Linked DNA regions of Homo sapiens. The protein of the gene in region 6 purifies or fractionates together with the protein of the main gene of each other region. This does not show direct contact. Each region holds a gene or a part of one and is shown on either strand. Other genes may lie near its edges.

Evidence for each region.
Region 1: the proteins of CD6 (region 6) and ARHGEF40 purify together in Homo sapiens (affinity purification with mass spectrometry; one large-scale study listed by BioGRID and IntAct). This does not show direct contact.
Region 2: the proteins of CD6 (region 6) and FARP2 purify together in Homo sapiens (affinity purification with mass spectrometry; one large-scale study listed by BioGRID and IntAct). This does not show direct contact.
Region 3: the proteins of CD6 (region 6) and CCDC12 purify together in Homo sapiens (affinity purification with mass spectrometry; one large-scale study listed by BioGRID and IntAct). This does not show direct contact.
Region 4: the proteins of CD6 (region 6) and PIP5K1A purify together in Homo sapiens (affinity purification with mass spectrometry; one large-scale study listed by BioGRID and IntAct). This does not show direct contact.
Region 5: the proteins of CD6 (region 6) and PDCD11 purify together in Homo sapiens (affinity purification with mass spectrometry; one large-scale study listed by BioGRID and IntAct). This does not show direct contact.
Region 7: the proteins of CD6 (region 6) and EPB41L5 purify together in Homo sapiens (affinity purification with mass spectrometry; one large-scale study listed by BioGRID and IntAct). This does not show direct contact.

Annotation. Positions count from the first base shown.
Region 1 is NC_000014.9:21,080,304-21,083,803, forward strand, and holds part of ARHGEF40 (rho guanine nucleotide exchange factor 40), read left to right. Parts: intron 1-356; coding exon 357-479; intron 480-569; coding exon 570-713; intron 714-1,016; coding exon of another isoform or gene 1,017-1,151; exon of another isoform or gene 1,152-1,194; intron 1,195-1,205; coding exon 1,206-1,816; intron 1,817-1,940; coding exon 1,941-2,175; intron 2,176-2,527; coding exon 2,528-2,614; intron 2,615-3,500. UniProt on the Homo sapiens protein: May act as a guanine nucleotide exchange factor (GEF).
Region 2 is NC_000002.12:241,359,285-241,362,784, reverse strand, and holds part of FARP2 (FERM, ARHGEF and pleckstrin domain-containing protein 2), read right to left. Parts: intron 1,908-3,500; exon of another isoform or gene 1,785-1,907; intron 1-1,784. UniProt on the Homo sapiens protein: Functions as a guanine nucleotide exchange factor that activates RAC1. May have relatively low activity. Plays a role in the response to class 3 semaphorins and remodeling of the actin cytoskeleton.
Region 3 is NC_000003.12:46,928,246-46,931,745, reverse strand, and holds part of CCDC12 (coiled-coil domain-containing protein 12), read left to right. Parts: intron 1-3,500.
Region 4 is NC_000001.11:151,201,552-151,205,051, forward strand, and holds part of PIP5K1A (phosphatidylinositol 4-phosphate 5-kinase type-1 alpha), read left to right. Parts: intron 1-2,254; exon of another isoform or gene 2,255-3,500. UniProt on the Homo sapiens protein: Catalyzes the phosphorylation of phosphatidylinositol 4-phosphate (PtdIns(4)P/PI4P) to form phosphatidylinositol 4,5-bisphosphate (PtdIns(4,5)P2/PIP2), a lipid second messenger that regulates several cellular processes such as signal transduction, vesicle trafficking, actin cytoskeleton dynamics, cell adhesion, and cell motility.
Region 5 is NC_000010.11:103,424,126-103,427,625, forward strand, and holds part of PDCD11 (protein RRP5 homolog), read left to right. Parts: intron 1-858; coding exon 859-1,400; intron 1,401-3,203; coding exon 3,204-3,266; intron 3,267-3,500. UniProt on the Homo sapiens protein: Essential for the generation of mature 18S rRNA, specifically necessary for cleavages at sites A0, 1 and 2 of the 47S precursor. Directly interacts with U3 snoRNA. Involved in the biogenesis of rRNA.
Region 6 is NC_000011.10:60,974,680-60,978,179, reverse strand, and holds part of CD6 (T-cell differentiation antigen CD6 isoform 1 precursor), read right to left. Parts: intron 1-3,500.
Region 7 is NC_000002.12:120,072,077-120,075,576, forward strand, and holds part of EPB41L5 (band 4.1-like protein 5), read left to right. Parts: intron 1-1,101; coding exon 1,102-1,144; intron 1,145-2,023; coding exon 2,024-2,102; intron 2,103-3,399; coding exon 3,400-3,444; intron 3,445-3,500. UniProt on the Homo sapiens protein: Plays a role in the formation and organization of tight junctions during the establishment of polarity in epithelial cells.

The DNA.
Region 1 (3,500 bases), on a different chromosome or scaffold from region 6:
CCAAGGCTTGGTGAAGGCCGTCAGTCATCCCTATGACCCTCATCCTGCTTTTGGTTCACCCCAGTTTGATGTACTTCACCCTCGGACATAGCCCTGGAACTTTGACCCACTCCCTCAGTGCTTCCCATCAGCCCAGCTTCCCTCTCATCTGCCTTACCAAAGATTTCTTACTCGGTTTCTCATCTGACCCTTGTGGAAACTATTACCATTCACTGTTGTCATTCCCACATTGCAGATGAGATGCAATAGTTCACTCAAAGTTCTATAGATTGGGGTGGTGGGGCTGATGCTGGATCTCAGCCCTTCCTTGCCTTTCCACTCCATGACCCCCTGCCCTCCCACCCCATCTGCCTCAGGTGTTGCAGTGGCTCTCGGGCCCAGGGGAGGAGCAGCTGGCAAGCTTTGCTATGCCTGGGGACACCTTGTCTGCCCTGCAGGAGACAGAGCTGCGATTCCGTGCTTTCAGCGCTGAGGTCCAGGTGAGAAGGGGCTGGAGGGCAGGTGAGAGGAGGCAGGGGGAGACTACCTAGGAGTGAGGACCAGGTCTGAGCGCAGCCTCCCTTCTCCAGGAGCGCCTGGCCCAGGCACGGGAGGCCCTGGCTCTGGAGGAGAATGCCACCTCCCAGAAGGTGCTGGATATCTTTGAACAGCGGCTGGAGCAGGTTGAGAGTGGCCTCCATCGGGCCCTGCGGCTACAGCGCTTCTTCCAGCAGGTGCATGCAGAGCCTTTTCCTTCTGTGCCCCCCCATTTCCATTTATTCACTTCCTTTCTGCCTGGAGAGGCTAATCAAGTTGTTAAAAGTGGAGGCTGAGGGGCCCATCTCCTAGGTTTTTGCTCTTAGCTCTGCCACCTCCTTGCTGAATGGCATGGGGCAAGATACTAAACCTGACTGTGCCTCCATAGATCTACCTCACAGGGCTGCTGTGGGGATTACACGAGGCAATACATAAAAGCCCTTAGCACAGAGCCTGCCACTCATAAATGTCGTATGAGTACCGGTTATTCTTTTATATAGGCTCTTCCATCTCCATACCAACTCCGAGTGACATGGTTAGGCAGTGATGGTGGAACAGTGAGAAAACAGGAGAGTGACGGGCATTGGGAGGCCACAGGCAAGAGGACAAGGGCTGTCACTGGGCATCCTTCGTGAGCAACACAGGCCCTTACCCTTTCTCTCCCATCCCCAACCCCTTTGACTTCGTAGGCACATGAATGGGTGGATGAGGGCTTTGCTCGGCTGGCAGGAGCTGGGCCGGGTCGGGAGGCTGTGCTGGCTGCACTGGCCCTGCGGCGGGCCCCAGAGCCCAGTGCCGGCACCTTCCAGGAGATGCGGGCCCTGGCCCTGGACCTGGGCAGCCCAGCAGCCCTGCGAGAATGGGGCCGCTGCCAGGCCCGCTGCCAAGAGCTAGAGAGGAGGATCCAGCAACACGTGGGAGAGGAGGCGAGCCCACGGGGCTACCGACGACGGCGGGCAGACGGTGCCAGCAGTGGAGGGGCCCAGTGGGGGCCCCGCAGCCCCTCGCCCAGCCTCAGCTCCTTGCTGCTCCCCAGCAGCCCTGGGCCACGGCCAGCCCCATCCCATTGCTCCCTGGCCCCATGTGGAGAGGACTATGAGGAAGAGGGCCCTGAGCTGGCTCCAGAAGCAGAGGGCAGGCCCCCAAGAGCTGTGCTGATCCGAGGCCTGGAGGTCACCAGCACTGAGGTGGTAGACAGGACGTGCTCACCACGGGAACACGTGCTGCTGGGCCGGGCTAGGGGGCCAGACGGACCCTGGGGAGTAGGCACCCCCCGGATGGAGCGCAAGCGAAGCATCAGGTGAGATCCCAGCCCAACTGGTGCTAAGAGGCGGAGCCAACTGCCCAGTAGGAAAAGAAGATGACATTGTTGGGGGTACTGGCTCCCTCCCACACCTCCTCTGCCACTCCTATTGTGCCTGCAGTGCCCAGCAGCGGCTGGTGTCTGAGCTGATTGCCTGTGAACAAGATTACGTGGCCACCTTGAGTGAGCCAGTGCCACCCCCTGGGCCTGAGCTGACGCCTGAACTTCGGGGCACCTGGGCTGCTGCCCTGAGTGCCCGGGAAAGGCTTCGCAGCTTCCACCGGACACACTTTCTGCGGGAGCTTCAGGGCTGCGCCACCCACCCCCTACGCATTGGGGCCTGCTTCCTTCGCCACGTGAGTGATCCCCTCAACTTCTTCCAAGTGCTCTCCCTTCTCTGTTCCAGCCTCATCCATCTGTCCCTCTTTCTCAGTACCCACGGCCCTCTCCTCCCATGTGTGGTCCATGACCTTGGGGCCCAGCCCTGTTCTGTGGGCACTTCTGCCTCTACTCAGCCTCTGCGCCCTGCTCTCAAGAGCTGCCTGGACTATGCTCTCTCCACAGGGAGCCCTTCCCTCCCTGGTAGGCTGAGTGCTCCCTGGTGACCCATCCCTCATTTGGGCTACAGAGAGGATAGAGAGGGGGAAGAGAGAGGCTTGTCTGCAGCGGCCTCACCGGGGACTCCTTATCTGTTCTTTACTGGCACAGGGGGACCAGTTCAGCCTTTATGCACAGTACGTGAAGCACCGACACAAACTGGAGAATGGTCTGGCTGCGCTCAGTCCCTTAAGCAAGGTAACTTTTTCTCCAACCTTCAGGAGAAAAGTAGAGAGGCCAGAAAGACCTAAAAACCCACCCAACAAATCCCTCAGGGCAAAAAACTGGATATGCCCAGGAACATCACCTACCAATCATCTCCTAGAATTGCCGAGGGTGGGACAAGCACCGGACTGGTGAGGCCAGGTTCTTATCCAGTCCACCTGAGGGACTGGGCAGGACTCCTGTTTCCTCTGGGCCTCTATTTCCACAGCTGGTAAATGGGGGCAATAGTCACTATAGCCAGCTCACAGGGAGGATCTAAGCATCAGAAGAGCTCACATCAAAAGACGTACAAGTGACTAAAAGTTCAAAGGCAGTGGCCGGGCGCGGTGACTCACACCTGTAATCCCAGCACTTTGGGAGGCCGAGGCGGGTGGATCACGAGGTCAGGAGATTGAGACTATCTGGCCAATATAGTGAAACCCCATCTCTACTAGAAATACAAAAAAAAAAAAAAAATTAGCCAGGCGTGGTGGCGGGCACCTGTAGTCCCAGCTACTCGGGAGGCTGAGGCAGAAGAATGGCGTGAACCTGGGAGGCGGAGCTTGCAGTGAGCCGAGATTGTGCCACTGCACTCCAGCCTGGGCGACAGAGCAAGACTCCATCTCAGGGGAAAAGAAGAAAAGAAAAGAAAAGTTCAAAGCCAGAAAGTAAAGGGGATTACTATTTTGATTCTTCTTCCATTTCCCTTCAAGATATAGACAGTGATTGCTGGCCTGCAGGCCCCCACCTGCTTTCTTTCCAGGGAGAATGGTTTTGCCTTACTTTAGGGAGCATCTGGGCTTCATCTATACCCAAAAGCCTAGGGTATCACCCACCTACCCCCCAACCCCTGAGCTTGGCCCCCAGAGGCTCCACCCCT
Region 2 (3,500 bases), on a different chromosome or scaffold from region 6:
TTCTCTGCAGAATCCTGCAGAAGTACTACCAGCTTTAAAAGTCTTAACTGATAGGGGCTACCTACAGTATGCCATTACTTACCTTCCAAGAGAAAGCTGGAATAACTGTCTTTCCCCTTAGAGTTGTATTTGCTCTTCTTTCAAAAATAGTTCAATTAAAAATTAATATATATATATATTTTTGAGATGGAGTCTTGCTCTGTCACCCAGGCTGGAGAGCAGTGGCGCAATCTCGCCTCACTGCAAGCTCCGCCTCCTGGGTTCACGCCATTCTCCTGCCTCAGCCTCCCGAGTAGTTGGGATCACAGGCGCCCGCCACCATGCCCGGCTAATTTTTTGTGTTTTTAGTGAGATGGGGTTTCACCATGTTAGCCAGGATGACCTTGATCTCCTGACCTCATGATCTGCCCACCTCAGCCTCCCAGAGTGCTGGGATTACAGGCATGAGCCACCACGCCTGGCCAAAATTAATATTTTTAAACACTCTCTGGGTTCCATTTCTTGTTCAGATACTGATACTTGTTTTCCAACATTCATCTTATTAACTACTATACTAACAAAGCAACTGAGATTTTAATCATAAAGGGGGACCGGGCGTGATGGCTCACACCTGTAATCCCAGCACTTTGGGAGACGGAGGCAGGTGGTTTACTTGAGGTCAGGAGTTTGAGACCAGCCTGGCCAACATGGCGAAACCCTGTCTCTACTAAAAATACAAAAAAATTGGCTGGGCGTGGTGGCGTGTGCCTGTAATCCCAGCTACTTGGGAGACTGAGGCAGGAGAATCGCTTGAATGTGGGAGGCGGAGGTTGCAGTGAGCCAAGATTGCACCACTGCACTCCAGCCTGGGTGACAGAGTGAAACTCTGTCTAAAAAAAAATAAATAAATAAAAAATAAAAATAATAATAATAATAAAGGGGACAAGAAATTTATAAAAGCCTAGTAATTTAAACAATTTCTAAAAGTAGTTCCTCCTTCACAAACACATTCCCACTAGCTCCTGGAAGATTCACTTAGCACCTTCACCTCACATTCCCCTACTGGGTTATCTGGCATCAAGCCAGGGACCAGGAAACTACCCCCACTAAAGCAGTTTGACTATAGAGCTAGTCTGGCTCAGGTTTCTGGGCCCTCACTTGCACCAACTCCTTCCAAGGTCCCGAGAAAGGCCCTAAGCAGAGTGTCCCTATGGTCATACACTTTTGTAAAATTTACCCCCAAAATATTCTAATTGCAATAAATTAAGACTACTGCCTTTTCCCACTGCAACTCTGCCTCTGTTCCTCTTCCCCTTCATGTCAGGTAGCTTGGGAGGTGCTGCTGGCATTTTTGAGATCCACGTAAGGGTACATTAAGTTGGAGAAAGACACTTAGTTTGGGTTTAACAGGACACATTTATGCTGTTTACAGTTACTTCTACTATGCAAACCTAGGTGATTACCAGCAATCTCAATGCGGGTATTCCTTCTAGAAATACTATCACCCACTGTGCTGGTTCACCAGGGCTTTTATGAAATAAAGGTGAAGGGCCAGGGATCCTGTGGCAATGTGAATAGGTCCAATGGGGTCTGACTCAGGGAAGTGTGTGGGCAGTGGAAAGGAAACATGGTTTGAAATGGAGGGAGCCAGTTGCTTGTTTGTGGGGAATTTACCATCAGACGTGCTAAAATATAAGCGAATAGATCAGTTACCAGAAAAATAATCAATATAGCAGTACAATTCTGTGTGCCTAAGATGTGTGTTTTTTTTTTTTTTCTTTTTTGAATGGAATTGTGCGAAACAGGATTTACCTGAACACCTGTTTTTCTGGGACACCAACCTGTAGCAGTACTAGAAACAGCAAATACGTCTATGTGAAACCATAAGTTTTATGTACCCTATCAACAATAAAAATTTATCTACTGTGCTAGAGGAATCACTGAGTTCTTTCTATATCCTGTCATATGAAAATGTGATTAAAAAGTACACAGCCAAAGGAAGAAATATTACACAGGTGTGTTAGATAATTAACAAACGTTATTTTTCTCAATTTAGCCATTTGCATTATTCATCAGCTTTTTCAAATTTGTTACGTTCTCATTCTAAATATTCACTTTTTTTTTTTTTTTTTGAGACAGAGTCTCGCTCTGTCACCCAGGCTGGAGTGCAGTGGCGTGATCACGGCTCACTGCAACCTCCACCTCTCGGGTTCAAGTGATTCTCCTGCCTCAGCCTCCTGAGAAGCTGGGAATACAGGCACATGCCACCACACTTGGCTCATTTTTTGTATTTTTAGTAGAGACGGGGGGTTTCACTGTGTTAGCCAGGATGGTCTTCATCTCTTGACCTTGTGATCCACCTGCCTCTCCATCTCTTGACCTCGTGATCCACCCACCTCGGCCTCCCAAAGTGCTATGATTACAGGCGTGAGCCACCGCTCCCAGCCTCACTTTCTAAATTAGTTTTTATTTGTAACTTTGCATTCTTTCTCTTAAAGAGTTCTCCCCTTCCCCCAAATTGTATACCTTCAAGCTCCATAAAACCTGGCATCTACCTCTGCCTCAGAAGAAATCTGATTAATTCATTCAAATATTTATTGAGCTCTATTCTGTTTCAGGCAAGTCTAAATGCTTAGGGATACAGGAGTTCCTAAGAGAGAAAAATTCCCCCCTATATAGTGGACAAATACAAAGAAGAGAGTACCTAATATATATTAAATGGTGATTTAAGTGCCTTGGAGTGAGTAAAGTGAGGGTGGTAGAGAGGAAGTTGGCAGCTGGAGGGAGACAGGGAGGAGGCTTCATCAAGAGGACAAGGTCCAAGACAAGGCCTCAAAAATGCACTGGTACACATTACAACAGCTACCGTGTCCTGTATGACCACCACTGCAAGGAGATGCATGTCAAGCCCTTCGCTTATGTCATCTCATTTAATCCTCACAATAACCATGTGCAGCTGGCATCAAGGAACTCAGGCTCAGAAAGGTTAGTGATTTGTTAGCAGTCACTCAGCTCCACAAGCGGCCTCAACCCCATCGTGATTGCATGGTGTGCACAGAGCACACAAAGATACAGAAGTTTAATTCAGAAAGGGAGACGACTGAGAAAGTAACCAGTACTACCTGCCCACTGCAGTCACAGAGAGAGCAGAAAGAAAGAGGCAGCACCGCTGGCTAGCCTGACCTGGAGCAGCTTTCCTCACAGGGGAACAGGAGACCAGGTGGACAAAGGACATAGTGTGTGCACAGGCAGAGGACTACATAGAAACTGCAGGAGCAGCTGGGAAAGGATGAGTATAGTTGGGCTGAGACACCCGAGGGGAGGTGGGGAGGTGGCCTGGGGTTGTGCTGCGCGAGCTCTAGTGGGCCAACTGGTTGGAATCTCATACCAAAGTAGGTTTTGCAGCTGGGATAGGACATGACCACATTTTCATTTTGGGAAGCAATCAGGAGGATGGGCGGGGAAGGGGAAAGATGGGATTAAGCAAGATTCATCACTGCATCCTACAACATTATAGGGCC
Region 3 (3,500 bases), on a different chromosome or scaffold from region 6:
CACAGCAGTTCTCTCTCTGGCCCTTGATGGGGCCTGTATGGCCAGGAGGGACCAGGGTGGCCAGGTGGAGGACCTTGTTCTCAGGGAACAGGCCATGTGGGACTGTCCTGTCCTTATCCTCTCTGCCTCCCTCCAGGGGCCCAGGGCAGCAGGTGAATGTGGAGTAGCCTCAAGATATAAGGGATGAGAAGGGAGGCTAGCGCCCCAAAGGATAAGCCTGGTAGCATGAGTGAGTGAAGTGGACCAGGGGCCATGAAACCCCCATGAGCAGTGTAGGCTTTGAGGCCAGTTTGCCAGTGATGGGGTTGGATCAGATTCATAATCTCAAAGCTTCCTTTCATTTCGCCATTCTAGAACTCTACTCTGGTTCTATACTTGACAGAGAACATCAACTTTCTCCACCTGCTTCCTCTCATTGGCACATGTGAAAAAGCACCCTAGGGGTGATTTCCCCTGAACCTCCCTGGCCAGCCCATGTCCCGGGCTCCTGCAGCTGGCCTGAAGCAGAGTAAAGTAAATAGAAAAGGTCAGCTACCCATTTTAGAAGGAAACTCTATGGAATGCAAACTTGGCATTCCCTGTTGCTTTGCCACAAAGAAGTTGCTTAGGGGTTGGCTGCCCCGGCCCAGCCACATTCCTGCCCTCTCTGCTGGGCACAACTTCTTTGCTTCCAAATGTCTTCTCAAGTCATTGAAAGGCTCAGAGAGCCCCAGGCTACCCATAAAGCTCTTTCTTGAGTGCCTTCTGAATTCCTTTATCCAGCTTGAGGCAATGTATGCTGAGCCCCTCCTGGAGCTGCCTGGTGCATTTAGGGCAGGCTGTGAAAGACAGACATGCAGCCGACACAGGGCCACGTGCATGGAGTGGGGCCTGCTGTGGAGAGGGTAGAGAGGCAAGTGGGGCAAAGGGGGCCCAGGAGAAGGGCGGTTACTGTGCCTCAGGGTGAGTAGGGACACTGGGAGGGGCCCACAGGGCCACCTCCTGGAGCTGGCTCTTTAAGCGTGATGGACGGGGAAGTGTGTAGCTGAGGGGGTGAGCAGGCTGTGGGGCCAGGACCACGTGAAGAAGCTTAGACTTGTTTTGGGGACACTGGGGTCCCTGAGTCAGAGGGAGGGCCAGTGGAGGCACTGAGGTGGCTGATGTGTCTGCTCCTGTGGAGAGACAGCAAAGCTCCACCCAGACACTGGCTGCCGGTATAGGGTGGACTTTGGGTGGCCTAGGGCATTTGGTGCAAAGGATAGTGTCTTAGAAGCCATTGGGCTTTCTGGGCTGCCCTCCTTCCCATAGACTCTGGGGGCAGAAAGCCCCAAAAAAGCATGGCTTGGTCTCTGCTTCCCTTTGGCTAGGGGACAGCCTGGCCCTAAGCCACAGAGACTGGCCACCAGCAGAGCTGAGGTGCTGGTGCTGCCTGACTCAGAACCCTGCCACAGTCTTCTGCTGCCTTATGGCCCCTCTGCCTGTTTCCTCTTTATGTTTTTGAGTACTTCGTTGGTTGTTTCTGTGTAGGAAGAATACTGATTAGAAATTCCGGAAACTACAGAAAATCAGAGAAGCAAGTAAAAATCACTCAGAGCTGGACATGGTGGCTCATGCCTGTAGTCCCAGCTATTCAGGAGGCTGAGACAGGAGGATTGCTTAAGCCCAGGAGATCAAGTCCAGCCTGAGCAACATAGGGAGACCCCCATCTCTTTTTTTTTTTTTTTTTTTTTTTTTTGAGATGGGGTCTTGCTGTTCTCGCCCAGGCTGGAGTGCAGTGGCACCATCTCGGCTCACTGCAACCTCTGCCTCCCAGGTTCAAGTGATTCTCCTGCCTCAGCCTCCTGAGTAGCTGGGATTACAGGCACCCGCCACCACATCTGGCTAATTTTTGTTTTTTTAGTAGAGATGGGGTTTCACCATGTTGGTTGGCCAGACTGTTCTTGAACTCCTGACCTCAGGTGATCCACCCGCCTCGGCCTCCCAAAGTGTTGGAATTACAGGTGTGAGCCACCATGCCCAGCCAAGACCCCCATCTCTTGAAAAAAAGTCAGTCCTAGAGATAACCACTGTCAACATTTTTGTTGTTTTTATTTCTTTTCTTTTAGCTAGAGCTAGTACCTTCTCCCCTTAGCAACTTCCTCATTCTAAAATGGGGGTGGCAGAACCATTGTTTGGCTCCAGTTGTCCTCAGAAAGGTGGCTTCCAGATGCCAGTGACTGCTGGTGAGTGCAGGCTGCTTCAGTATTTCCTGGCCAGCTGACAAGGTGTTAGGTGTTGGCCTGCCCTACTGCTCTGGCTGGCACCATCTCGTCACACCCTGCCCAGTCTCCAAGAGCTGTGGTGGCCCCGGACACTGTAAGGCTATGGGAGCTCCTAGGATAGCAGCCTGGACCTGCTTTGTGTGTGAACCTGTTGTCCTACTATTTGTTTCTTGACTTTCCTTTTTTATCTCCATTCTTGTCTCCTTTTGGATTTTTTTGTTTTTAATTATTCCACTTTCTTCCTCTGTTAACTTGTTAATTGTATGCTGTTTTCCCTTTCTTTTAGTGATTTCCACAGGCATAACAACATACATCCTTAACTTATCAAAGTCTAATAGAAAATAGTAGTATTTTTACCATTTCCTCTACAGTGCTTAGGACCTTAGAACACTTTAAGGCTATTTGCCACTCTGCCTTTTACACTATTGTTGCTATATTTTAAATACTATAAGTTGTTATTACTCTTTTATACAGTCAATATTCATTTAAATTCTCTTTTCCCCCTGCTTTTTTTTTGAGACAGGGTCTTGCTTTGTCACCTAGGCTGGAGTGCAGAGTGTGATCATAGCTCTCTGCAGCCTTGAACGCCTGGCTCAAGCAATCCTCTTGCCTTAGCCTCCGAAGTAGCTGGGATTACAGACACAAGCCATTGTATTTACCCTTTCTGAGGCATTTTATTTTTTCCCTGCAATTCCATGTTTCCGTCTGAGATCATTTTCCTCTAGCCTAAAGTATTCCTTTTAGTATTTCTTGAATAACGGATTCACTGATAACTGATTCTCCTAACCTTTCTTTGTCTGAAAAAGTCTTTCTCTTGAAGGCTTCTTAACTAGATTTAGAATTTTGTGTGACATTTATTTTGTCCACACTTCTGAGATACCATTTCATGGTCTTATGGTTTCCATAGTTGCAGTTGAGAAGTCAGTAGTCTGTTTTAGTTTCTGCTTAAACACACTTTTTTTTTTCTCTCCAGGCCCATGAGATTATATGAGGTTGGTGCAAAAGTAATTGTGGTTTCTGCCACTATGTTCAATGGCAAAAACCACAGTTATTTTTGCATCAACCTAATGGGAAGCTCTGCTCAGTCTCTCAGCTTTTCAGCTGCTGCATGTAAATAGACATGCTTTAAGGGGAAAGAGGGACGTGATGTCAGGCTCACTTTGTTGTACTTCCCTTATCTCCATGATTGCAGCCCCTGAAATCCTTGCTGTCTTGGTACTTCTCTAAAGCCATTTAAAATACATATATATACATTTTTTT
Region 4 (3,500 bases), on a different chromosome or scaffold from region 6:
CATCATGTCAGCCAGACTAGTCTTGAACTCCTGACCTCAAGTAATCCGCCCACTTCGGCCTCCAAAAATGCTGGGATTACAGGCATATCGCAAGGTCAGGAGTTCGAGACCAGCCTGGCCAACATGGTGAAACCCCATCTCTACTAAAAAATACAAAAAAATTAGCCAGGCATGTTGGCGCAGGCCTGTAATCCCAGCTACTTAGGAGGCTGAGTCAGGAGAATTGCTTGAACCCGGGAGGCAGAGGTTGCAGTGAGCCGAGATCACACCACTGCACTCCAGTCTGGGTGACAGAGCAAGACTCTGTCTCAAAACAAAAAAAAGGGGGCAAAAAGTGGCTAAATTTCAAGCTCTTGATGGACTATGGAAAGATTATAATGGCCTCCACCAAATCCAAACATGGTAATTGCTCCAATAGCAAAAGTAGTTAAACATCTCTTAGAGCTTATGGTTTGCTTTACTCTGTGTATTTCACTTGTCAACAGTGTAAAAGCTGACAGCTTAATGGTGAAACTATCTTTAATATTGGCAGGGAACAAACTCTCCTAAATAACCTCTCCTTCCCAATTTAAATGCCAGAAGATTGGGAGTGCCTAGAAGTTGTGAGTGGCTTATCAAAAACTGTCAATATGTCCTTGGCTATGACATTTTTGTTTTATATCCATTTTCAGCATTGTCAGAGAACATTGTCCTTTAGGATTTCAGAGTTTCACCAAAACTTAAGTGGAGTTCAGCTAAACAGCTAAGAACAGTAAATGGTTTTAGGGTGGTTGACACGCACACTTCTTGAATTTCTACAGGGCCAGCCTTCTAGCCTTTAACAATTCAGGAAATCATAAACCATCACTTGTTCCTGCCAACTTCCTAATTCCTCTGGTACCATGCAGACAAAGAAACACTCTCTTCCAATCGCAAATAAAATCTTTTTTCTCTTTTTTTAGGTGGACTCTTGCTCTTGTCACCCAGGCTGGAGTGCAGTGGGGTGATCTTGGCTCATTGCAGCCTCAGCCTCCCGGGTTCAAGCGAGTTGCCTGCTCAGCCTCCCAAGTAACAGATTACAGGCACCTGCCACCACATCTGACTAATTTTTGTATTTTAGTAGAGACAGGGTTTCACCATGTTGGCCAGGCTGGTCTCAAACTCCTGACCTCAGGTGATCCACCCATCTCGGGCTCCCATAGTGCTGGGATTACAGGCGTGAGCCACCATGCCCTGCCAGTAAAGTCTTTTTTTTTTTTTGAGAGGGAGTCTCTCTCTGTCGCCCAGGCTGGAGTGCGGTGGAGCAATCTTGGCTCACTGCAGCCTCAGCCTCTAGAGTTCAAGCGATTCTCCTGCTTCAGCTTCCCAAGTAACTGAGATTACAGGCACCTGCCACGTCTGGCTAATTTTTGTATTTTAGTAGAGATCAGATTTCACCATGTTAGTCAGGCTGGTCTCAAACTCCTGACCTCAGGTGATCCTCTCGCCTCAGCCTTGCAAAGTGCTGAGGTACATACAGGCTTTAGCCGCCGCCGCTGGCCTTACTTTATGCCCTTTTTACCACCATGAGGAGAGTAAAGAATTTCTGTCTTGGAGGCTTGATTTGAAGTTAGTGGTTGGGTTAGAAGGGATAGGATACTAAGGTGTACACTGCTCCTATGAAATAAGAGTTGTGGAGTAAAATCATGTGTGACTTCCTCAAGGAAAAGCACTTGAGGCTGGGTACAATGGCTCACACCTATATTCTCAGCACTTTGGGAGGCCAAGGCAGGCGGATCACCTGAGGTCAGGAGTTTGAGACCAGCCTGGCCAACATGGTGAAACCCTGTCTCTGCTAAAAATACAAAAATTAGCCGGGTGTGGTGGCAGGCACCTGTAATCCCAGCTACTCAGGAGGCTGAGGCAGGAGAATTGCTTGAACCCGGGGGACAGAGGTTGCAATGAGTCAAGATCACACCATTGCATTCCAGCCTGGGGGACAAGAGTGAAACTCCATCTCAAAAAAAAAAAAAAGGCCAGGAGCAGTAGCTCACGCCTGTAATCCCAGCACTTTGGGAGGCCGAGGTGGGCGGATCACAAGCTCAAGAGATGGAGACCATCCTAACCAACGTGGTGAAACCCCGTCTCTACTAAAAATACAAAAATTAGCTAGTCATGGTGGCACACTCCTGTAGTCCCAGCTACTCGGAAGGCTGAGGCAGGAGAATTGCTGGAACCCAGGAGGCGCGGGTTGCAGTGAGCTGAGATCACGCCACTGTACTCCATCCTGGAGACAGAGTGAGACTCTGTCTCAAAAAAAAAAAAAAGAAAAAAGAAAAGCACTTAAACCCTAGATAATCATGAGCTGTGTAGTTCCTTTTGCTTCAGACTAGAACATTTTTAAAATGGTCATCGCTCACCTATATGATTTTATCATGTGCACAAATGATTTAGACATAACTTTACAGCTGCTTACCTGACTTTTTCTCCCCCTTAACGGCTCAGGGAGATCCAGAGGATACAGTATTGGAGCATTTTTGCTTGGGACTTTTATAGTAGGGACAGCTTCATCAGTCTGTGATTCTGATTGCTTTGTTCTTCCCAGCAGAGCCCTACCTGTAACCTGCAGTAATCTGTTAACTCCAGTAGTAGGGATTATTGTTGATATATATATATATTTTTTTGAGATGGAGTTTCGCTCTTGTTGCCCTGGTTGGAGTGCAATGGCGCGATCTCGGCTCACTGTAACCTCTGCCTCTGGGGTTTGAGTGATTCTCCTGCCTCTGCCTCCTGAGTAGGTGGGATTACAGGCACCCGCCAACACGCCCGGCTAATTTTTGTATTTTTAGTAGAGACGGGGTTTCGCCATGTTGGCCAGGCTAGTCTCAAACTCCTGATCTCAGGTGATCTGCCCACTTCAGCCTCCCAAAGTGCTGGTATTACAGGCGTGAGCCGCCACGCCCGGCCTGTGGATGTTTTTTTGATCTGTGTTCTGTTGTGTACAGTGTAAGCCATTTGTAGGCTGATTTCTTTCCTAGTTCTTCCTCTTAGTGAAAAGTAAAGCAGTTTAGATCATGTTGAATGATAAACTGAAATTTAGAAATGCAAACATAGAATACAATGTCAGAATATCACCAGGTGCCATTTTGGTTGATATTTTATAAATAGGGAGATATTTTTCTGTTTACTCTCCATAGGGATTTTGACACTTTCCACCCACCCCTTTTTCCTTTTGTCACCTTGGTATATTCTGCCAGAAAACTGACATCAGAATGTCATTGCTTCTGATCGATTTATTTCTGCCATGACACTCAAGCCCATTGTCAGTTATAATTAACTAGTCTAATAGGTATCCAGTTTCTGATATTAATTGATAATGTGTACTTACACGTTAGCGTTGAATATCAAAATAGTACGTTTTGCTTATTAATGTCTGTGGGCTTTTTTAGGTTAATTTAAAACTCTTCTGATTAATACCTTTGCTCAAATATGTGCTACCTAATAGCTATTAAATATTTTATTAGCCTGTTTTTCTTGGATAA
Region 5 (3,500 bases), on a different chromosome or scaffold from region 6:
AAAAACATCCCATGAGCCAAACAGCATGTCTGTGGGCAGTTCAGACCTCCAAGCTGTGCGTCCACACCCTCGCCTGCCTTGTCTTCTGGACACTTTTGTGTGACATAAGAATGGGTTTGAGGGAAAAATTATTATTTTTCTCTGGGTGATGAATATATTTGGTTATTGTCTAAAGCACTTATTAGGCACCTAGTTGCACAGAGTATGGTGCAGTGTAGATATAATCCTTAATTTCCAGTTGCTTACAGTATTAAGAGTTTAGGACAGAGAGAGAATGGAAAGCAATACTAACCTCTCATTCAGTTTTCTAGCAGGACCCTGTACCATTTTATCACCTAAGGGAAGCTTGGGCATATAAGAGCATGAGCACAATTTGGATTTTGAGGAAAGAGAGGCTAGGTGCCTTGCACACAATAAGCTCTCAGTAATGACTCTATTCATTGCTTGGGTTGAAGAGTGATTAATTGGGGGTGGGGGAGCTGCAGGACAGATTCAGGAACCACAGTGTCTCTAAGCTGAGAGAGCTGTTAGAGGTTGCAAGGCTGTGCATCAGAATTATCTCAATAACTTGTAAAATTCAGATTTACTAGATCTAGGATAGGGTCTTGCAATTTAAATTCAAAGCAAAGCAAAAACCAAGCCAAGGTAATTCAGAGGCAGCCCCATGAGTTTAGTGTACAGGAGAGGAAAGCTAGGTCCAGGGAGTGAAGGCTAGTCTGTTCCAGCTCAGACCAGCCTTGAGTTCCCTAGCCTTGGGACCCCAGAGGGTTTCCTCAGCCACACCCTGCCCAGTGGGGCCATGAGTGAGTGACCATGCTGTGTAAGGAAAGCAGGGATGGTGGCTTTTCTCTCTTCTAGCTGAGGAAAGGCAGCGAACACCAGGCGATTGTGCAGCACTTGGAGAAGTCCTTTGCCATTGCCTCCTTGGTAGAGACGGGCCACCTGGCAGCTTTCTCCCTGACCTCTCACCTCAACGACACCTTCCGCTTTGACTCAGAGAAATTGCAGGTGGGACAGGGTGTCTCCCTAACCCTCAAGACCACAGAACCAGGAGTGACTGGCCTTCTTTTGGCTGTGGAGGGGCCGGCTGCCAAGAGGACCATGAGGCCGACCCAGAAGGACTCTGAGACAGTTGATGAGGATGAAGAAGTGGATCCAGCTCTGACTGTAGGGACCATAAAGAAGCACACCCTCTCCATCGGGGACATGGTCACAGGGACTGTCAAGTCCATTAAGCCTACCCATGTGGTTGTGACTCTGGAAGATGGCATTATTGGCTGTATCCATGCCTCCCACATTCTAGATGATGTTCCAGAGGGCACCTCTCCTACTACCAAGCTGAAGGTTGGGAAGACGGTCACTGCCCGAGTGATTGGCGGGCGAGACATGAAGACATTCAAGTATGGAGGCTCTGGGGGTGGGCTGGCTTCGAGGGAGATTGTTGTTGTTGTGGGAGGACTGGGAAAGTAGGTGGGCTCCAAAAAGTTGCATGTAAGTCAGATTCTCTTTTAGTTAACAAAAGGCATTCACCAAAGAATTATTTTGCAAGATTCTTTTTTTTTTCTTTTTTTTGAGACGGAGTCTCACTCTGTTGCCCAGGCTGAAGTGCAGTGGTGTGATCTCGCCTCACTGCAAGCTCTGCCTCCTGGGTTCACACCCTTCTCCTGCCTCAGCCTCCCAAGTAGCTGGGACTACAGGCACCCACCACCACGCCCGGCTAACTTTTTGTGTTTTTAATAGAGATGGGGTTTCACTGTGTTAGCCAGGATGGTCTCAATCTCCTGACCTTGTGATTTGCTCACCTCCACCTCCCAAAGTGCTGGGATTACAGTGCATTATTCTTTTTAAAAATATGGAATATATGGTGTGGTTGTTAAGAACATGGGTTTGGAGTCAGACCCGGGTTTGAATTCTAGATTAACTGTGACCATGTGGCAGTAGCTACTTAAGTCCAAATTTTATTTTCTTAATTTGTAACGTGAGAGTCATGGTAGCGACTACTTTGTAGGGCCATGGTGAAGACTGAAAGAGAGAACGTGTAGTCTGTTCTTTGCCTAGTGGGTTGCTGGCCTCAGTTACTGCGCTGTATACATCTGCAGTTGTCATTCTCCACCTCCCACTTTAATTATCCTCATTTACTTTAAATCTAGTGCCACATGTTACTGTAGCAGAAATTCTTGCTATAACAAGAACAGCAAAAAAAGAATTCAAAGTCTGGCCAATAATTTGCATATTAATTTCAGTAGCTAACTGTGGGGTCTTCAGTAAGTCAATTATCCTCTAAATAAAGACCTCAGTTTCCTTATTTTTAGAATGAAAGAATTGGAGTATATAGACTGTAAGGAAAATTGTTTTCAGGATCTGATATGACAATCCTAAAAGATCAGGCCAGGCACGGTGGCTCACGCCTGTAATTCCAGCACTTTTGGGAGGCTGAGGTGGGTGGATCACCTGAGATCAGGAGTTCAAGACTAGCCTGGCCAACATGGTGAAACCCCGTCTACTGAAAAAACAAAAATTAGCCGGGCACAGTGCCTGTAGTCCCAGCTACTCGGGAAGCTGAGGCAGGAGAATCACTTGAACTCAGGAGGCAGAGGTTGCAGTGAGCTGAGATTGTGCCATTGCACTCTAGCCTGGGCAAGAGAGTGAGACTCCGTTTCAAAAAAAAAAAAAAAATCAGGTGAGGCTGGGTGTAGTGGCTGAACCCTGTAATCCCAGCACTTTGGGACGATGAGGGAGGTGGAAAACCTGAGCCCAGGAGTTCAAGACCTGCCTGGGCAACATGGTGAGACCCCATCTCTACAAAAAAAAAAATAAATAAATAAAAATAAAAATTAGCTGGGCATGGTGGCATACACCTATAGTCCCAGCTACTTGGGAGGCTGAGCTGGGAGGATTGCTTGAGCCCAGGAGATTGAGGCTACAGTGAGCCATGATTGCGCCACTGCATTCCAGCTTGGGTGACAGAGTGAGACCTTGTCCCAGAAAAAAAAAAAATTCAGATGAGCCTGCTCCTTACTAATAACTGCAAAGGTTGGGAATGGAAACCTTCAGCCTGACACATCTGTCTTCAGTGGTGGTGTGACAGTGGAACAGGGTGCTTTTGTGAGCTTGGTTTGGTGGAGAGTAGGGAGAAATCCTGACCTACAGATTACTGTGTTACAGAGATGAAGAGAAATGATTCAGCTTATTTGTTTCTCCAGGTATCTCCCAATAAGTCACCCCAGATTCGTTCGAACCATCCCGGAGCTGAGTGTTCGGCCAAGGTGAGGGGGACATTAGCAGCACTGTCTTACGGAAAGAGCACTGGGCTTTGGAATTAGGAATCCCGAATTCGAATCTTGATTTTACCAGTGTTAGGATTGATTTTTGCCTTTCTCTGTCCAAGTTTTCTTGTTTCTCTAGTGGGGATATTTGGTTCTCCTAGGGCTGGAGGGATCATATGAAAATTAATGCAAAAGCTGTGTACAGGTTTTAAGTATCAATTTAAAGCCTGGTTT
Region 6 (3,500 bases):
CACATACACAAAACTATGCAAAATTGATTTAGGTGGTCATTGACTTGGCATTATATACCACTATATTACATGATGAGGAAGTTATGCATACTCTTTATTTCCCTTTCAGCCTTTCTAATTACAGACTTGGAGGAGGAAATCTCCCATGGGGTTAGTCTTTAAAGTCTCTCTGACATCTACAGCCCTCCCTTTTGAGGAAAGGGAAAGCAGCAAATGCATCTGGCTAGAATTTAGTAACATTGTTTTATTTCCATTATGTTTATTTTCACCATTATAATCATGATGGTGATTTATAATGAATGGCTTTCCATTTAAGGGAGTGATATATAAAGTTTCTTCTCAAAATAAATGTATTTGCATTTTAAAACATCAATTAAGAAAGAGTAGCCAGGCATGGTGTCAGGCGCCTGTAATCCCAGCTATTTGGGAGGCTGAGGTGGGAGGATCCCTTGAGCCCAGGAGTTTGAAGCTGCAGTGAGCTGCACCACTGCATTCTAGCCTGGGCGACAGAGCGAGACTCCATCTAAAAAAAAAGAAAAGAAAGAAAGAAAAAGGAGGGAAATTACGTTAAGTAAATTGTCAGGTGGATGACACCTTGGCCAACACTGGGAAGGTGGGCTGGAATAAAGTGCTCCGGGAAGAGCTATGCTGGATAACTTACCATGCTCTGAGTCTGGAGAAGGGCCAGTGCCGAGGACAGGATGGAGGGCCTGGAGGTCTTGCTAGCTGAGGAAGTAGATACAGCCTGGGGATCCCAGCCCTACCAGGGGGCTGCTCAGGGCAGGCCTGAGCACATGGCATGGATGTTAAAGCTCATGGTGTCCCATCTGTGGTCCAGGCAGGGAGAGGATGGCCACGCACCTGGGAGGTCTACACTCCAAGCTCCTGTCCTAAAGGACAGTTGGGGCCACCTGTTTATTCCTCCTTGCCCCAGGGAGAAGTCTGATTCCTTAACTCAGAATCTAACAGCTGGGTACTGAATTTAATTCTTGAGTGTTCTATAAATATAATAAATAAAGCCTTAATAAATGTGGTCTGAATGAGGAGGGCCATGGGCAGCATTTCTCACTCATTCTAGATCCCTCTGTAAAGTTCGAGCTCCAGCACCCTAGGAGCTACCCCGTTCCATGGCCCCAATACGGTGAAGGCCACGCTAACTGTCATCAGTCATTGACCTGTGGCCAGAGAGCCAAGCTAAGCCGGGAGAAAGATGCAGAAGCCTGTCATAAATTATTTATGTATCTATGAGATGAAGTCTTGCCAGGCAGGAAGAATGTGAAAAGAGGTCAGAATAGAAAAGTAAACATGTGTGTTTAATTCAGTCCAATCAAACAATAAGGCCAGATGCACGGCAGATGTAGGGGATTAGGTTTGTATAACTTGGATTCAGAGTTCATAGGTCAAGGAGCCAGCCCAGTTAGAGGGCACGGACTATCAAAAAGGGCACAAGCGCATCCATCAGCAACACAGGGGAACCATATCTTATGTTTTGGCAAAACAACAAAAACACCGACCTCAGCTCAGTCCACTGAGATGGAAAAACTTCAACCTGCTTGGCATAACCCAAGTTACCTGCAATGGCGCCATTGTTTCCTCCTTGGTAAGTGGCTTTTAAACCCAGGAAGATTAGAATTTAGAAAATAGAGATGATTAAATAAACAAACACTCATAGTATATATCCAATGGTGTTAAATGTAAGTTGGGTCAAGCTCCGTGAGTTGCATAAAGTCCTATATTTGTGATATTTAAAAACATTTGGCCATTGAGTTCCTCATGAATGTGAGCAGGTAATTGACTTAGGTTCAATTTTGAAGTAGAAAATTTAAGAGAATTTGACAATATCTGTAAACATTAGAATATTTAAGAGAACTTGATATTCGCTTTAATAACTCAGAAACAGAAAGTCAAACACCACATTCTCACTTATAAGTAGGAGCCAAACAACGTGCACACATGGACATACAGAATGGAGTAACAGACATCAGAGATTCCAAAAGGTGGGAAGATGGGAGGGGAGTGAGGAATGAAAATTACTTATTGGGTACAATGTACAACACTCCAGTGCTGGGTACACTATAATCCCAGACTTCACCACTACGTAATATATCCGTGTAACAAAACTGCACTTCTACCCTCATATCTATAAAAATTTTAAAAATAACTTAATATTCACTTCACTTATGCTAGTTTTTTAGTTCTAAAAGCATTTTCTAAAATTCTTGGGAACATTTTGTTTCATGCTCTATAAAATATGGAATTCATCATATTTATAAATGTGCTTAGAATATCAAAAGCAGTGTTATCCAATATAAATATGATGCAAGTTACGCATGTAATTTTAAATATTCCAGGACAACCCTCCCCCTACTTTTTTATTGAGACAGGGTCTCCTTCATCGCCCAGACTGGAGTGAAGTGGCACAATAATGGCTCATTCATTGCAGCCTCAAACTCCCGGGCTCAAACCATCCTCCTACCTCAGCCTTCCGAGTAGCTGGGACAACAGGCTTGTACCACCACTTCAGGCTAATTTTGTATTTTTTGGAGATACGGGGTTTTGCCATGTTTCCCCAGCTGGTCTTGAACTCCTAGGTTCAAGCGATCTTCCTGCCTTGGCCTCCCAAAGTGCTGGGATTACAGGTGTGAACTACCACACCAGACCAGAAACCCCATTTTTAAAAAGTAAAAAGGAATATGTAAACTTAATTGTGATAATAGAATTCATTTAGCCCATCATATCAAAAATATTATAAGTTCGACATATAAATCACATAAAATTTGTTGAAATATTTTACATTCTTTCTTGAAACTCATCTTCAAAACCTGTTGCATATTTTACACTTTACACATCTCAATTTGGACTATCATCACATTTTAAATGCGTGATTGTAGGGGCTACCCTATGGAATAGCACAGAACCAAGGGAGTTTGATTAGCTACATTTGTAAGGGTATTTATTATTTAAGGATGCTAGGTCTGTTCAACTTCATTTGCTCAAATATTAAAGGCCCATCGAAAGTCATTAATCAAAATTACAGGGCTTATAAAATAAAATATGATTAGTATGTTGAACTCACAAGTTAAGAAAAAACAAATTATTAAAAAATTGTTAATTAAAGAATTACTATTTTTTTCAAAAGTAGCCACAAACAGCCTTTTCATACACAAAGGCAGCCCTCGAGGACCTCGCCAGCCAGAGCACAGCTGGCATTAGAGTCACGGAGCTCAGCACTGCCCTGGCGGGAAAGGCCTGGGGCTTTGTTACTGCGTCATAGTGTCAGATCTGGACAAAAGCTTTCTTATAGATTGTCTGACAGAGCACCCCCCTTCCACTGATGAGAAAACATGGCTGAGAAGAAAAGAAGCACAGTCAATGGTGAATTAGAGACGGGACCAGGGCAGAACCTGGGGTCTCATGATGCCACCCCAGCCTCCCCTGTCAAGGGCTCCTAATTCATTCTCTCTGTTCCTTCATCCTTAGTTGGCTGATCAGGAAACTGA
Region 7 (3,500 bases), on a different chromosome or scaffold from region 6:
AAACAAATTTTCCAGAAAAAAACAACCCCATCAAAAAGTGGGTGAAGGATATGAACAGACACTTCTCAAAAGCAGACATTTATATGGCCAGCAAACACATGAAAAAAAGCGCATCATCACTGGTTATTAGAGAAATGCAAATCAAAACCACAATGAGATACCATCTCACACCAGTTAGAATGGCCATTATTAAAAAGTCAGGAAACAACAGGTGCTGGAGAGGATGTGGAGAAATAGGAATGCTTTTTTTGGTGGGGGTGTAAATTGGTTCAACCATTGTGGAAGACAGTGTGGTGATTTCCTCAAAGATCTAGAACCAGAAATATCATTTGACCCAGCAATCCCATTACTGCGTATATACCCAAAGGATTATAAGTCATTCTACTATAAAGACACATGCACACATATGTTTATTGCAGCACTGTTCACAATAGCAAAGACTTGGAACCAACCCAAATGCCCATCAATGATAGACTGGATAAGGAAAATGTAGCACATATACACCATGGAATACTATGCAGCCATAAAATAGGATGAGTTCATGTCCTTTGCAGGGACATAGATGAAGCTGGAAACCATCATTCTTAGCAAACTAACACAGGAACAGAAAACCAAACACTGCATGTTCTTCCTCATAAGTGGGAGTTGAACAATGGTAACACATGGACACAGGGAGGGGAACATCACATACTGGCGCCTGTTGGGAGGGTGAGGGACTAGGGGAGGGATACCATTAGGAGAAATATCTAATGTAGATGATGTGTTGATGGGTGCAGCAAACCACCATGGCATGTGTATACTTACGTAACAAACCTGCACGTTCTGCACATGTATCCCAGAACTTAAAGTATTTAAAAAAAAAAAAAGTCATCTGTCAGGTTTTAGGTCGTTTTTGTTCACGTGTGTCATAAGCTTGCTATGGTGGATATTGGCTAGATACTCTTCCTTCTCACCTCTTTTCTCATTCACTTGGGTTTTTCTCTTGTGAAGTATTTCCTTGCGGTTATCAGTGTAGGCACAATGAAAAGTAACTTTTAGTAATTCATTCAAATTTTAAAGTTCTGTCATCTGCTTAACTAAATTTTTGTTTTTGTTTTTCAGCATTGGTTGGATGGTACAAAAAGCATCAAAAAGCAAGTAAAAAGTAAGTGCAGACAAAATTATTTGTGGGGGGGAAAGGAAATAGAATATATTAGAAATTCTGATTTCTAATAGGATGTAAGAAATCATGTTTCAGATGAGTTTTTTAGCATTTCCATTTTCTAGAAATTATTTTATTCTGATACACTGAGCTACTCCCCAAGTCATGTAGGCTTGATACTAATCTAGATTAAACTGCATTGGGGCTTAACTTTCCAGGAGAAAACCTTGCAGCTTGCAAATGGGATTGACTTTCCCCGAAATGCTTAATGGTTATTTTTTAATTAGTTGTGTTGGAATTTTCCTGTTTGGCATCTGCCCTAATATTGAAAGTATTTTGAGACTTTGTGATATTTTAAAATTAAGAAAAATGAAACAATTCACATAAAATGTTAGTGTCATTCAGAGAGAGAATACCATTGTTTATTCATTATCCAACTTGACTTTTTATCAGACTTATTAGGGCACCTCAACTCTTGTCTCAAAATAATGAGACCACTGAGATTATAGAAGTTAGTGAACTTGCTGAATTGTATTTGTGTGGGAAGATTCACCATGAGCAGTTAATAACATAGGCATTCTTCAGTGTAGCAGGTTTTCAGGGCTGTTAGGTTGCACAGTCAAGACTTTTATTTGATGCATTTGGCTCTGAACTGTTAGAATTAATCTATAGCTGTCTATTCTTGGGATGAGAGTTAATAGTAATATGATGGCTTGGTACATTAAAAAACAATCTAATTGAAGCCTATGATCTAACCTGCAATAATGCCATAAAAACCTCATCTTTTGTCTCACTTCAGTAGATTTTTGACCAGTTTTCTGGCTGAAAAGTATTATTTAAGTAGTTTATTTTATTAAAACCTTTTTTTTTTTTAAATGACAGTTGGTTCACCCTATTGTCTGCATCTTCGAGTTAAGTTTTATTCCTCAGAACCAAATAACCTTCGTGAGGAGCTAACCCGGTAAGAACACCATCTAGAATTGTGCCAGGGTTATTTTGATAGTTTTGAAAGACTGTCTTTATATTGTTTCCAATTTATAGCCAGCTAATAAAATGGATTCCTGTCCCCTGGTAACAAGACCTCAAATAATAGAATTTTATTCTGGGACGTGTTTTTTAAGTGTATGATTCTTTTCCTTTAGCATTTTCAAAATAAAGAGTTGGTTTCTTAGCATCCTCCAAAGGTGACTAGTGAGTTCTTTTTTTTAAGTATCACTCTCAACTCAGGAATGTTAACAGGATTCACATGTTTCAATACATTGCAATATTATATTTATTGATGTTGAAAATAATCTATCTTTGGCCACAGGGAGTTTATTCAAATTGGCGCCCAACTTTCTTTACTCATTGAAATGCCATTGATTAATGAAAAACATTAGATTCTGATTGGTTTGAATAGTTTTGAATAAACCTTATGTTGTATATACTTATTTTAATGTTATCCTGCCTCCTTTGTATTTATTCATGGTCTCTATTATAAATTCATTGCTCCATATACACATACTATTTATTAAATGAAAAAGTTGAGCTTTTGAGTTCCTTTAGAAGGGTTTCCTTTAGAACACCTTGACAATGAGATAGTAGCTATCATCTGTAGTTATATCCATGTCTGTATCCCTTCACATAACAAGTAGATGTCTCGCTCTGTCATCTAGGCTGGAGTGCAATGGCATGTTCTCAGTTCACCGCAACCTCTGTTCCCCCAGGTTCAAGCAGTTCTCATGCCTCAGCCTCCCAAATAGCTGGGATTACAGGCACGTGCTCACACCCCCAGCCAATTTGCGTATTTTAATAGAGACGGGGTTTCGCCATGTTGGCCAGGCTGGTCTTGAACTCCTGGCCTCAAGTGATCCACCCGCCTCGCCCTCCCAAAGTGCTAGGATTATAGGTGTGAGCCACTGCACCAGGCCTTTAATTAAGAATACTTCTAAGATCTAGTGTTAGATCAGTAGGGTGATTATAGTTTACAATTACGTATTTTACATTTCAGAATAGCTAGAAGAAAATAATTCAAATATTTCTAGCATAAAGAAGAGAAAAATATTTAAGGTGATGGATACCCCACGTATACTGACTTGATCCTTACAAATTATATGAATGTATTCAATTATTTCATGTATCCCCAAACTATGCACATCTTTTATACATTAATACAAGTAATTTTTAATGAAATAATACTTCTCAAGTTAGAAGTGTAAGATTTTTTTTCACAGTCGATTGTGCTGTTGGGTTAAATTTGTGCCTTTCATTTTTCTTAGGTATTTATTTGTTCTTCAGTTAAAACAAGATATTCTCAGTGGAAAGTGAGTATTAGTTATTTAAGGATAAATGCACATTTTCGTGAGTGGTTGAAAAATTA